Homo sapiens: one gene and its partners. The protein of the gene in region 3 interacts with the protein of the main gene of each other region in a pairwise test. Each region holds a gene or a part of one and is shown on either strand. Other genes may lie near its edges. The genes, in order: TNPO2, RAB5A and PNMA5.

The links.
Region 1: the proteins of PNMA5 (region 3) and TNPO2 interact in binary tests that used the Homo sapiens proteins (3 or more experiments, as listed by UniProt).
Region 2: the proteins of PNMA5 (region 3) and RAB5A interact in binary tests that used the Homo sapiens proteins (3 or more experiments, as listed by UniProt).

What each region holds. Positions count from the first base shown.
Region 1 is NC_000019.10:12,703,182-12,706,932, forward strand, and holds part of TNPO2 (transportin-2), read right to left. Parts: intron 3,615-3,751; coding exon 3,389-3,614; intron 3,338-3,388; exon of another isoform or gene 3,268-3,337; intron 3,187-3,267; coding exon 3,015-3,186; intron 2,588-3,014; coding exon 2,501-2,587; intron 2,419-2,500; coding exon 2,311-2,418; intron 2,218-2,310; coding exon 2,059-2,217; intron 621-2,058; coding exon 533-620; intron 491-532; exon of another isoform or gene 416-490; intron 346-415; coding exon 247-345; intron 1-246. UniProt on the Homo sapiens protein: Probably functions in nuclear protein import as nuclear transport receptor. Serves as receptor for nuclear localization signals (NLS) in cargo substrates.
Region 2 is NC_000003.12:19,949,993-19,953,743, reverse strand, and holds part of RAB5A (ras-related protein Rab-5A), read right to left. Parts: intron 2,939-3,751; 5' UTR 2,846-2,938; coding exon 2,683-2,845; intron 1-2,682. UniProt on the Homo sapiens protein: The small GTPases Rab are key regulators of intracellular membrane trafficking, from the formation of transport vesicles to their fusion with membranes.
Region 3 is NC_000023.11:152,988,318-152,991,261, reverse strand, and holds the end of PNMA5 (paraneoplastic antigen-like protein 5), read left to right. Parts: coding exon 1-1,010; 3' UTR 1,011-2,438; downstream 2,439-2,944.

The DNA of each region.
Region 1 (3,751 bases), on a different chromosome or scaffold from region 3:
GCCAAAGTCACCCAACCAATCCGAATGAGTCTTTTAGCCAACTACACAAAACGGTCCAATCAGAACAGCCCTCCTATCCCTCCTCTTTAGAGAAGCCAATCACAAATGACCTTTCTGCTTGGCTCCACCCCTGACGACCCCCAAGAGACTTGCCTTGAAGGAAGCTGTCAGTCAGAGCTAGGCTCCCGCCCCCAGGTTGAGAACAGGCTAATGGGGGGCGCGTGTTGCCACTTGCAGGGCACTCACCCATCTGCATGCAGATTTCACCAATGGCCCAGGTGGCGTTGTTGCAGACGGAGATGAACTCTGGGTTCAGGTTGGTGCCCAGAATGGGCATGAACTCGGCTGGTGGGGAGAAACAGGGGTGCTGAGAAGGAGGGCCAGCCAGGGTAAGCTGCAGGACCTAGTCCAGCAGGCCCCATCAGACAGTACGAATACATCCCAATGTGGTCACAGTCATCCCCGGGTATTGCTCTCCATCACTTGAGGCCGGGGCTGGGGTCATGGGTTAGGGACAAGGCGAGTGTCGTACCGATACAGGGCTTGACATGGATGAAGCAGGCTTTGGTGAGGTCTCCCAGGAGGGCAAAGGAGCTCTGCCGGACCTCAGGCATCGAGTCCTGGGGATTCAAGTAAGATCAGTGTGGCTAGGCTCCCCTCCTTCTAACCAGGACAGCTCAGGGGGCACAGTCCCTGGTGCATGTCCAGCCTCTGCCACTTTCCAGTTCTAGAGCTCCTAGCTGTTCCTTAACCTCCCTAGCCTCCAGCCCACATCTGCAAATGGGAGATGGCAGTGCCCCAACGGTCATCCCTCAGTGTCCGTGGGGGATTCTTTCCAGGTCCCTGCAGATATAAAAATCCACGGATGTGCAAGTCCTTGATATAAAGTGGCACAGTGTTAGGGCCAGGCGCAGTGGTTCATGCCTGTAATCTCCAGCACTTTGGCAGGCCGAGGCAGGCAGATCACTTGAGGTCAGGAGTTTGAGACCAGCCTGGCCAACATGGCAAAACCCTGTCTTTACTAAAAATACAATAAAATTAGCCAGGCATAGTGGGACACGCCTGTAGTCCCAGCTTCTTGAGAGGCTAAGGCAGGAGAACTGCTTGAACCCTGGAGGTGAAGGTTGCAGTGAGCCGAGATCACACCATTGCACTCCAGCCTGGGTGACAGAGTGAGACTCTGTCTCAAAAAACAGGTGGGGGGCGGTGGGGGGGGCATAGTGTTTGCATATGCACCTATGCACATTCTCCTGTACACTTAGCATCATCTCTAAATCACTTATATCTAATACAATGTCAACAGTATGGGAATAGTTGTTATACTGTATTGTTTAGGGAATAATAACAAGAACAAACTTCTGTATGCGTTCAGTACAGATGTAATTTTTCCTCTGAGTATTTTCAATCTGAGGTTACTTGAATCTTGGGATGTAGAACCCACAGATACAGAGAGCCAACTGTGCTGGGGCAGGGACTTGGGCTTTCACATTTTCTATTTTCTTTTCTTTCTTTTTTTTTGAAGACAGAGTCTCAGTTTATTGCCCAGGCTGGAGTGCAGTGGCATGATCTCAGCTCACTGCAACCTCTGCCTCCTGGGTTCAAGCAATTCTCCTGCCTCAGCCTTCCAAGTAGCTGGGATTACAGGCGCCTACCACCATGCCTGGCTAATTTTTGTATTTTTCGTAGAGACAGGATTTCACCGTGTTGGCCAAGCTGCTCTCAAACTCCTGACCTCAAGTGATTCACCTGCCACAGCCTCCCAAAGTGCTGGATTATAGGCGTGAGCACCTGGCCTCACATTTTCTATTTTCAATACTGTTTGCTTTAAAAAAAATTTTTTTTTTTAATTTTAGAACTGGGGTTTCACTATGTTGCCCAGGCTGGTCTCAAACTCCTGGGCTCAAGCAATCCTGCCTCGGCCTCCAGGATTACTCTTTAAAATAATTAGAACAGCACCTTTTCCCTGATTTCCTTTGGGCACAACCAGGCCCTGACTCCCCACCAGGGGCAGCCCACGCAGGCTGCTGGGTGTCATCACTGTCCAGGGTCCCCACCCACCTGCATGCACTGGAACAGCAATGTCATGATGTTGCTGCGGGCCACCAGCTGCTCCACGTGACCACCCAGGCCCTCGGCCAGGCCGCTGAGCAGATCCAGTGCTACGATCATGAAGTCCTTGTCGGGAGCCTCATACTGCTCAGGGTGCTGGGTGTACATCTAGACACAGATGCCGACAGGGGCACGGGTAAGTGGAGCAGGCCCGAGGCAGGCCAATGCAGAAGCACAGGTGACGGGCCTAGGGTTGCTCACCATGGCCTGAGCCAGTGTCTTCTGCACCAGGGTGACACAGCGCTGGTAGACGGGCTCACAGTAAGGCAGGAAGCCACTCTGCAGGGCGGTGGCCACCGATGACAGACACTGGCAGGGAGGAAGGCAGGTGGGGAGAACTCAGGCAGGGTGGGCAGGATGGGTTTCGGGTGAGGGGCAGGAGCCCACTCACCTCCAGCAGGGGGAAGAGGTCCTTGTCTTCGTCCTTGAGCTCATTCCACTTCTGGATCAGTGGGGGCATCAGCTTCTGGATGTATTCCTGGAGAGGGAGCACGAAATGGGCGCTCCCTGGGTCGGGGTGGCAGACTGTGACTCAGGTACCTGTTGCCCGAGTGATGAGGCCTGAGCGCCTCACCGTGGCTCATGGGACCCTGAAAGGCCTGCCATCTGGCCAGACCTCGAGGCCTTCATTCTTCTCACCTGTCCAAGCACCGCCCGCCCCACCCCACCCCCCGGGAGCCTGGGTTACCACCTCCTGGTTCCCGAAGCACAGCACTTACCACGCTGTCTCATAACTGTCTTTCTCCCCCACTAGACTGGGAGCAGGGCGAGGGCGGGGCCGGGTCTGTCTGTCTGCCTGTCGAGGTCACGGCCACGTCCCTGGCGTGCAACACGGGGTTGCCACCAGGTCACTGGATGCCCAGGGGCACGGGGATCGGGAGGCGGGAGCCGCTCTGGGGTCTCACCGGCTGGTTGAGGTGGTGGCCTACAGAGTCGGCCAGGGTGCCAATGGCGTCATAGAGGATGAGCAGGTTCTTGTGCTGGTATTTCCCAAAGGCAAAGACAAGGGTGTCCAGGATGTAGCTGAGGTAGGGCACCAGCTCCGTGCAGGCCTCTTCCTCCAGGGTGGCAAAAGCACTGGTGGGAGGGAGGATGAAGCGGGGGCTCAGTGGACCATGGCAGGTGACACTGGGCCATGGGCAGTTGGGGAGGGCAACTCAGGATCAGCCAGTACGAATACGCGATAAATCAGTTCCACATCAACAGTCACAGGTGTCATCACTTCCCAGAGGGTGGCCGGGGGAGAGTGGGGGCTGTGGGATCAGGGGTCCAGGGTCACCTGCAGGCCGCCTCCTGTACCCTCTTGTTGCCATCCAGGATGCGTTTGAGCAGCTCTGTCATCAGGGGCTTGAGGTGCATGTCGGGTGGCTGGCTGACCACCCAGTGGGCATAGCGGCTCAGCGTCCAGCAGGCGATGGAGCGGACCAAGGCCTTCTTATCCGACAGGCACTGGATCAGGTGCGGGATCAGCTCAGGCAGGTAGGGCACCATGCCCTGCATGCAGCCTACAAGGAAAGGGAACCAAGAGGGGGCAGTTTGATTGGGCCCAGCCACACCCACCGTATGGAGAGAAGAGTCAGCCGCACACAACATATAGGGAAACTGAGGCTTAGAGTTTAAATCACTGGCCCAGACTCATTTC
Region 2 (3,751 bases), on a different chromosome or scaffold from region 3:
GTGAAAAAGTATCCAATAAAGATTAACAGAAAGTTGGGCCAGGGGCAGTGGCTCATGCCTGTAATCCCAGCACTTGGAGAGCCCGAGGTAGGCAGATCACTTGAGGCCAGGAGTTCAAGACCAACCCGACCGACATGGTGAAACCCCATCTCTACTAAAAATACAAAAATTGGCCAGGAGTGGTGGCTTGCGCCTGTAGTCCCAGCTACTTGGGGGGCTGAGGCATGAGAATTGCTTGATCCTGGGAAGCGGAGGTTGCAGTGAGCCAGGGCTACACCACTGCACTCCAGCCTGGGCGACAGAGACCTTGTCTCCAAAAAAAAAAAAAAAAAGGATTAACAGAAATTTGGATGCAAATTCCTTTTTGTTTTTAAACAGGAAGCTCTACACATAGAAATGAAAATCTTTATGAAAAATTCATTAATGAAATCTAGACAATCTAACTGGTGTTACATGGAGATTATATAGAGATACACACATATCAGAGATATATTTATGATACACAGGATATGGGGTTACATTTTTCTTTTAAACATCCTTCTTGAGCTATCATTAGGAAAAAATAAACTTAGAAGTGCATTATCCAAAACAAGATAAAAATTCTAATCTTAAGCTCTTGCAAAGCTCCCCAGGAATTAAGTCCTATACTACAGTACTTCAGAGTTTTTATTGTTTTAATAAAATAATAAAGAGAGAGGAGAAGAGTAGCATATAGTAAGTCCCAAACCTACGTGGCCCAGGTTATTTAACCCAGAATGCACATATACTTTGGGAAATGCTTCCATTAACAGTGAAATAAGTGGGTGGACATGATCTAGCAGTCTTTAAACTTTTCCTACTAGATGGGACAGTTAGCTTTGACCAAATCACTTCTGGAGGAAGCAAAGCCTTCTTGAGAAGTAGTATTTCATTATTAAACTGGATATAATGTATTAACAATAACAACAACAACAACAAAATCACACGTGGATGTACTTTCAGGGAAAAAAAAAATCACAAAGATGTCTAATATATTGTGTATTAACATTTTTTAAAATGCCAAGACTTCTGACTCAAAATAAAAGCTCCATGATGCTTTCTGATGCTCAGCCATTAGAAAAAACATAAAACATTCTAATATAACATTTTAACAAGATATACAAAGGCCAGGAGGTAGTAGACTTCTGTAACTTATCTTACTAGAATGGGTCTAAGATTATGAATAACATTCTCAAGTATATTTGCAGAAGAGCATTCACTAAATGCACAGTATAAAGTTTTGCTTCTGAAAGACAGATTCCAAGAAGTTGCCACATGCCAGTTGGTATCTACCTGTCTTATTTCCAAAGTTTGACTTTAATTTTACAGGATGGGGTTAAAATATATACATGAATACCTTAGAAAACAGCATTGCTTAATTATATATCACTTGCAAAATATTGTGAATCTCAAACCGTGTGGCTCTTGCCACACATCATCTAATTGAAAAGCATCATTTCACAGATGAAACAGAGGCCCAAAAGAGGCTATCTTGTCCCACTGCTATATAATTATAGGTTTCTTTGATTAAAGTCAATTTTTTTTAAGAGATGGGTTCTCATTATGTTGCCCAGGCTAGACTTGAACTCCCAAGCTAAAATAATCCTGCCTCAGCCTCCAAATACCTGGGACTACAGGAATGCACCACCATGTCCAGCTAAAATTCAATTTTCCCATTTCACGTCCTCTCTTGACAATACTGTACTGTTTGTTGTCTCCTTTTCACCCTGCATCTTACCTTCCCCTCATCTCTGTCCCACCATAACCACCCTTGTCAGTGCCTACTCTTTCCCTTCTTCTTTCATCTTTTTCTTCAGGTTCCATTTTCCTGTTATGTCCCTTTCCATTAATCACTTTTTCTCTTCCCTCAGCTTAGGAGCATTCTTACATATGCATCTCAGCAGGGAGCACCTGTAATCACAGCTACCTGGGAGGTTGAGGCTGGAGGCTCACTTGAGGCCAGGAGTTCAAGACCAACCTGGAAACACAGCGAGACTCTGACTCTTAAAAAAAAAAAAAAAAAACTTGCCTGGCATGGTGGCATGCACCCTTAGGTCCAACTACTTGGTGGGAGGCTAAGGCAAGAAGATCATTTGAGCCTAGAGTTTCAGGCTGCAGTCTGCAGTGAGCTATGATCCGGACACTGCACTCCAGCCTAGGCGACAGCAAGATCCCATCTCTTAAATACCAAAAAAAAGTACATCTAGCAGTATTTAATTACATTTAATTTTACAAGTAAGTATAATTATTTGCAAATACTTCAGTTATATAGATCAGAATTTAAGGTTACCTTTTTTACTATTCATTTTAAACCAATATAATTGAGCACAAACATGTACTGTATTAATTTGAAGAAGCTTCTAGTTGTTAGCTAGAAATAGGTATCAGGTCAAATGTTATTACTTGAGACACTGATTCTACTCATGTTTTTTATCTGTATTTTAGCTACAATATAACCACAAGGGATTAACCAAACAATCAAATATAAAAACACATCATTTTAACAAAGATAAAGGCAAGTTTTAAAGCTAAGGTAAGCTGAACAGCTCTTTTCTTCACTCTATGACTTATTTAGCTATTCATAATCACACAATTGGAACATCAAAATATTTTCTGTCAATGTATGATTCGATTAAATGAAGCAGGGAAAAAAGAAAATCTCACCCCCAATGGTACTCTCTTGAAATTCATGAAATTGGCCTTTCACAAAACGAAGCACTAGGCTTGATTTGCCAACAGCGGACTCTCCCAGAAGTACTAGTTTGAACTGGCATATTTTATTTCCCGTATTTGGCCCGTTGGGTCTTGTTGCGCCTCGACTAGCCATGTCCAAATTTGAAATAAGTCCCTAATTTCAGACTCTTCAATGAACTTCCAGAATTCAAGGGGCCAATATTCTTCTTTCTGGAGGTAAAGAAACCTGTAAAGAAACAATTATGAATTAAATATACAAATCAGTAAAGCAAATTTACTATTAATCACTTTAAATATTGCCTATAGCATGATTATCTTAAACTCTACTAGACCTTCAATGCCCTTTAGATTATGTCACTATCTTTTAAAGGAAATTCAAAGGTATAGGATGTGAGTCCAAAATTACTTTTTTTTTTAAAGGCTAACCTCAAAGCTTCAAGTTTGTGCCAGGCAGTGCTTTAAGTACTTAACTTCTCAACAATCCTATAAAATGAGATATTATTACAATCCTTATAAATGAGGAAACAAGCACAGAGATGTTAAGAAGCTTAATTGAGGTCACACAGTTATTGTCACAGAAGTGACAGAGCCGAGTTTCAAACCCAGGCAACCTGAGAGATGACTCGAGTTCAAGTTCTGTAGCCAGGCTACTTGGATTAACATTGTTTTGAGAAAAATTATGTTATTAATAAATGGGAAACTTTTAGAACAGATCCTAAAATTTAGTATTATTTGAAGTTTTCTGTTAAACGATGCATTTTTCATTTAATTAATGGTAATTTTGGACAACAAATATTTTCAGTCTCCCAGGTTTGTGTGCCTAACGGCAGACTTAAAACTGTTTCCTCATCTGCTCAAGCACACCATACACAGAAATGCTAACAGTTGTTCTCCATGTGGTGATTATTACTGACTTATTTACTTACAATAATTGTAACTTTTTTGTAGTCTTTAGACGAACAATATACATGCCATTTTTAAAAAAATTTTTTTGGAGAAAGGGTTTTGCTCTCTCACCCAGGCTGGAGTGCAGTGGCGT
Region 3 (2,944 bases):
AGGGCCGAAGTATGACAGATGTGGCCAGAGCCCTGGGATGTTGCAGCCTCCCTGCCGAGAGCCTGGATGCAGAGGTCATGCCCCAAGTTAGATCCCCACCTTTAGAGCCTCCGAAAGAAAGTATGTGGTACAGGAAACTGAAAGTGTTTTCGGGAACTGCTTCCCCTAGCCCAGGCGAAGAGACCTTTGAAGACTGGCTAGAGCAGGTCACTGAGATAATGCCCATATGGCAAGTGTCTGAGGTGGAGAAGAGGCGGCGTTTGCTGGAGAGCTTACGTGGGCCTGCTCTGTCAATCATGCGGGTGCTCCAGGCCAACAATGACTCCATAACTGTGGAGCAGTGCCTTGACGCCCTAAAGCAGATCTTTGGGGATAAAGAGGACTTTAGAGCCTCTCAGTTTAGGTTTCTGCAGACCTCTCCGAAGATTGGAGAGAAAGTCTCCACTTTCCTGCTGCGCTTAGAGCCCCTGCTGCAGAAAGCCGTGCACAAGAGCCCCTTGTCAGTGCGCAGCACAGACATGATTCGTCTGAAACATCTCTTAGCTCGGGTCGCCATGACCCCCGCCCTCAGGGGCAAGCTGGAGCTCTTGGATCAGCGAGGGTGTCCTCCCAATTTTCTGGAGTTAATGAAGCTCATTCGAGATGAAGAAGAGTGGGAGAACACTGAGGCAGTGATGAAGAATAAGGAGAAGCCATCAGGGAGAGGCCGGGGGGCCTCCGGTAGACAGGCAAGAGCAGAAGCCAGTGTCTCTGCACCTCAGGCCACCGTGCAGGCAAGGTCTTTTAGCGACAGCAGCCCCCAGACCATACAGGGAGGCTTACCCCCATTAGTGAAACGCAGGCGGCTGTTAGGCAGTGAAAGCACTAGGGGAGAAGACCATGGCCAGGCCACGTATCCCAAGGCTGAAAACCAGACTCCAGGCAGGGAGGGGCCACAGGCTGCAGGAGAGGAGTTGGGAAACGAGGCAGGGGCTGGGGCCATGAGCCATCCCAAGCCCTGGGAAACATAGGCTCAGAAGACCGAAGCACTCCTTCCCCTGGCAGGCAGCAGGGACATTTGAACAAGGGGAAGGGGCAGCTTACACTAACAGGGAACTTGACTGGGGCAGAGGGACAGGGAAGCCAGGTCGAGATCAAGCCCCCTTACTTTCCACCAGCTGGAAGGGACTTCACCAACCAAGACCAAATAGCATCTGGTTCAGTGGGGGCCGGGCCCATAGCCCCTAACAGGTACAGGAGACACAAGCGGGGAACCACTACACTTAGCACATGGGGTGCCTGGGCTTCAGATGGGGACCCCAGCGAAGCAGGGGCTGAAGAAGGTGTGGCTGGGGGCTCTGGCCTGGTCCTCTGGACACCCCCAAATATCTACCCTGTGGACTTTGAGCTGAGCATGCCCACTGGCACCCAGGCCACGTGGGACCTGGAGGAGCCTGCCTGGGGCCTGCCTCTGCCAGAAGGAGCCAGGGCTGCTGAGGAAGAGCTGTGGGGCAGAAGTGAAGCCCCGCAGGGGAGGCCACAGGGTCCAGCCTGTCTTTAGGATCATCTACACTGCATGAGGGGAGCCCCAGGAAGGCAGCATTCATAAGCCCCTGCACCAGTGAGGAAGAGAAAGAGGAGGAGAATTAAGAAGAGGATGATCGGGAGGAGGAAGAGGAGAATAAGGAGGAGCAGGAGGAAGAGGGGGAGGAGAAGGAGGAAGAGGGGGAGGAGGAAGAGGGGAAGGAGGAGGAAGAAGTGTAAGAAGAGAAGAGAGGATGTGTTGGGGGTGGGTAGTTGTTTTTGGTTTGCGTCATCATCAGGCCCGGGCTCTGCTCACTGCTGTTCCGTGTCAAGAACTCCACCTCTGCTTTGCCGGTGTAGATCTCGGCCAGTGGCTGCTTGTTCTCTTGGGGATGTGTGTGTTTTTATCTGAGCAGCTCCTTTCCAGAGTACCCCAGCGCAGTTCCAGGAGACGGTGGGAAGGAGGCATGGCAGACGCTCACCTTGTGACTGTGACCTCGACTGCAGGAGGACCAACCAGACACGGGAAGGAGCAGGGCTGCCTGAGGCTCCCCAGGAAGCTTTGTGCTTTGGCGTTCCACCCCTGCTGTTACTCGTGACTCAGTTTCCTCAACTTGGTGGGGTGTTCCCTGCTATGTTTTCCAGCATCCTGTGACTGTCCTGTGCAGTCTATAGGGCAGGGCCCTGCCCCAGCGGGTGGGCTCAGGAGGGGGTTCCCTGAAGCGAGTACACATTGCCAGAGCCCACCATCCTGGCAAGAGGTGGATCCTGGGGCCCTATGGAAGGAGGGATGTGGTGGGGGGGGCCACACTGAGGGAGGGGCCGGGGACTTGTGACCTGTAGTGGCTGTTTGCAGTTTCTCTCTGTGTTAGATTCCCTTTTCTTCAGCAGTTTCAGTTCATGTTTCTCTTCAGTAAATTTTGTTCAGTGTTCCAGTGGTGTCTTGCCTCTGCTGTGTGAAACTGGGGTGGGAGGTGGTCTGCTGGGGATGGGGCCACAGTGGCCAGGCTGACATCGAGGTGTGTGTGGGGCAGGGTCTATGAGGGCCTGTGGGGTGCCTTGGGCTGCATGGAGCCTGGCAACAGGATGCTGGTGGTCATGAGCAGTGACTGGCTGGGTACCAAAGGCACTCCAGGTGTCCTCAGGAATAAGTGACTTGGACATTGAAGGCTGGGCAAGGGGCAGCAGGTGGGTCCCAGGCCCCTGATCCCTGGCAGCACTGTAGGGGTGTGGCTCAAGGCTTCCGGAAGGGTCAGAGAGGCCACGTGTGCAACCAAGGCCAGCAACCGAGGTCAGAGAAGAGCCCCAGGAGGGCCTGGACAGGCAGTCAGAGGCCCTGTGAAGAGCTGTGTGCAGGACTCGGGGTGGGGTAGGGGCTGGTGTGTGCCCATCCTCCCAGATCAGCCCGCAGGTGGCCAGCCTTGGCCTAGCCACTGAGGGA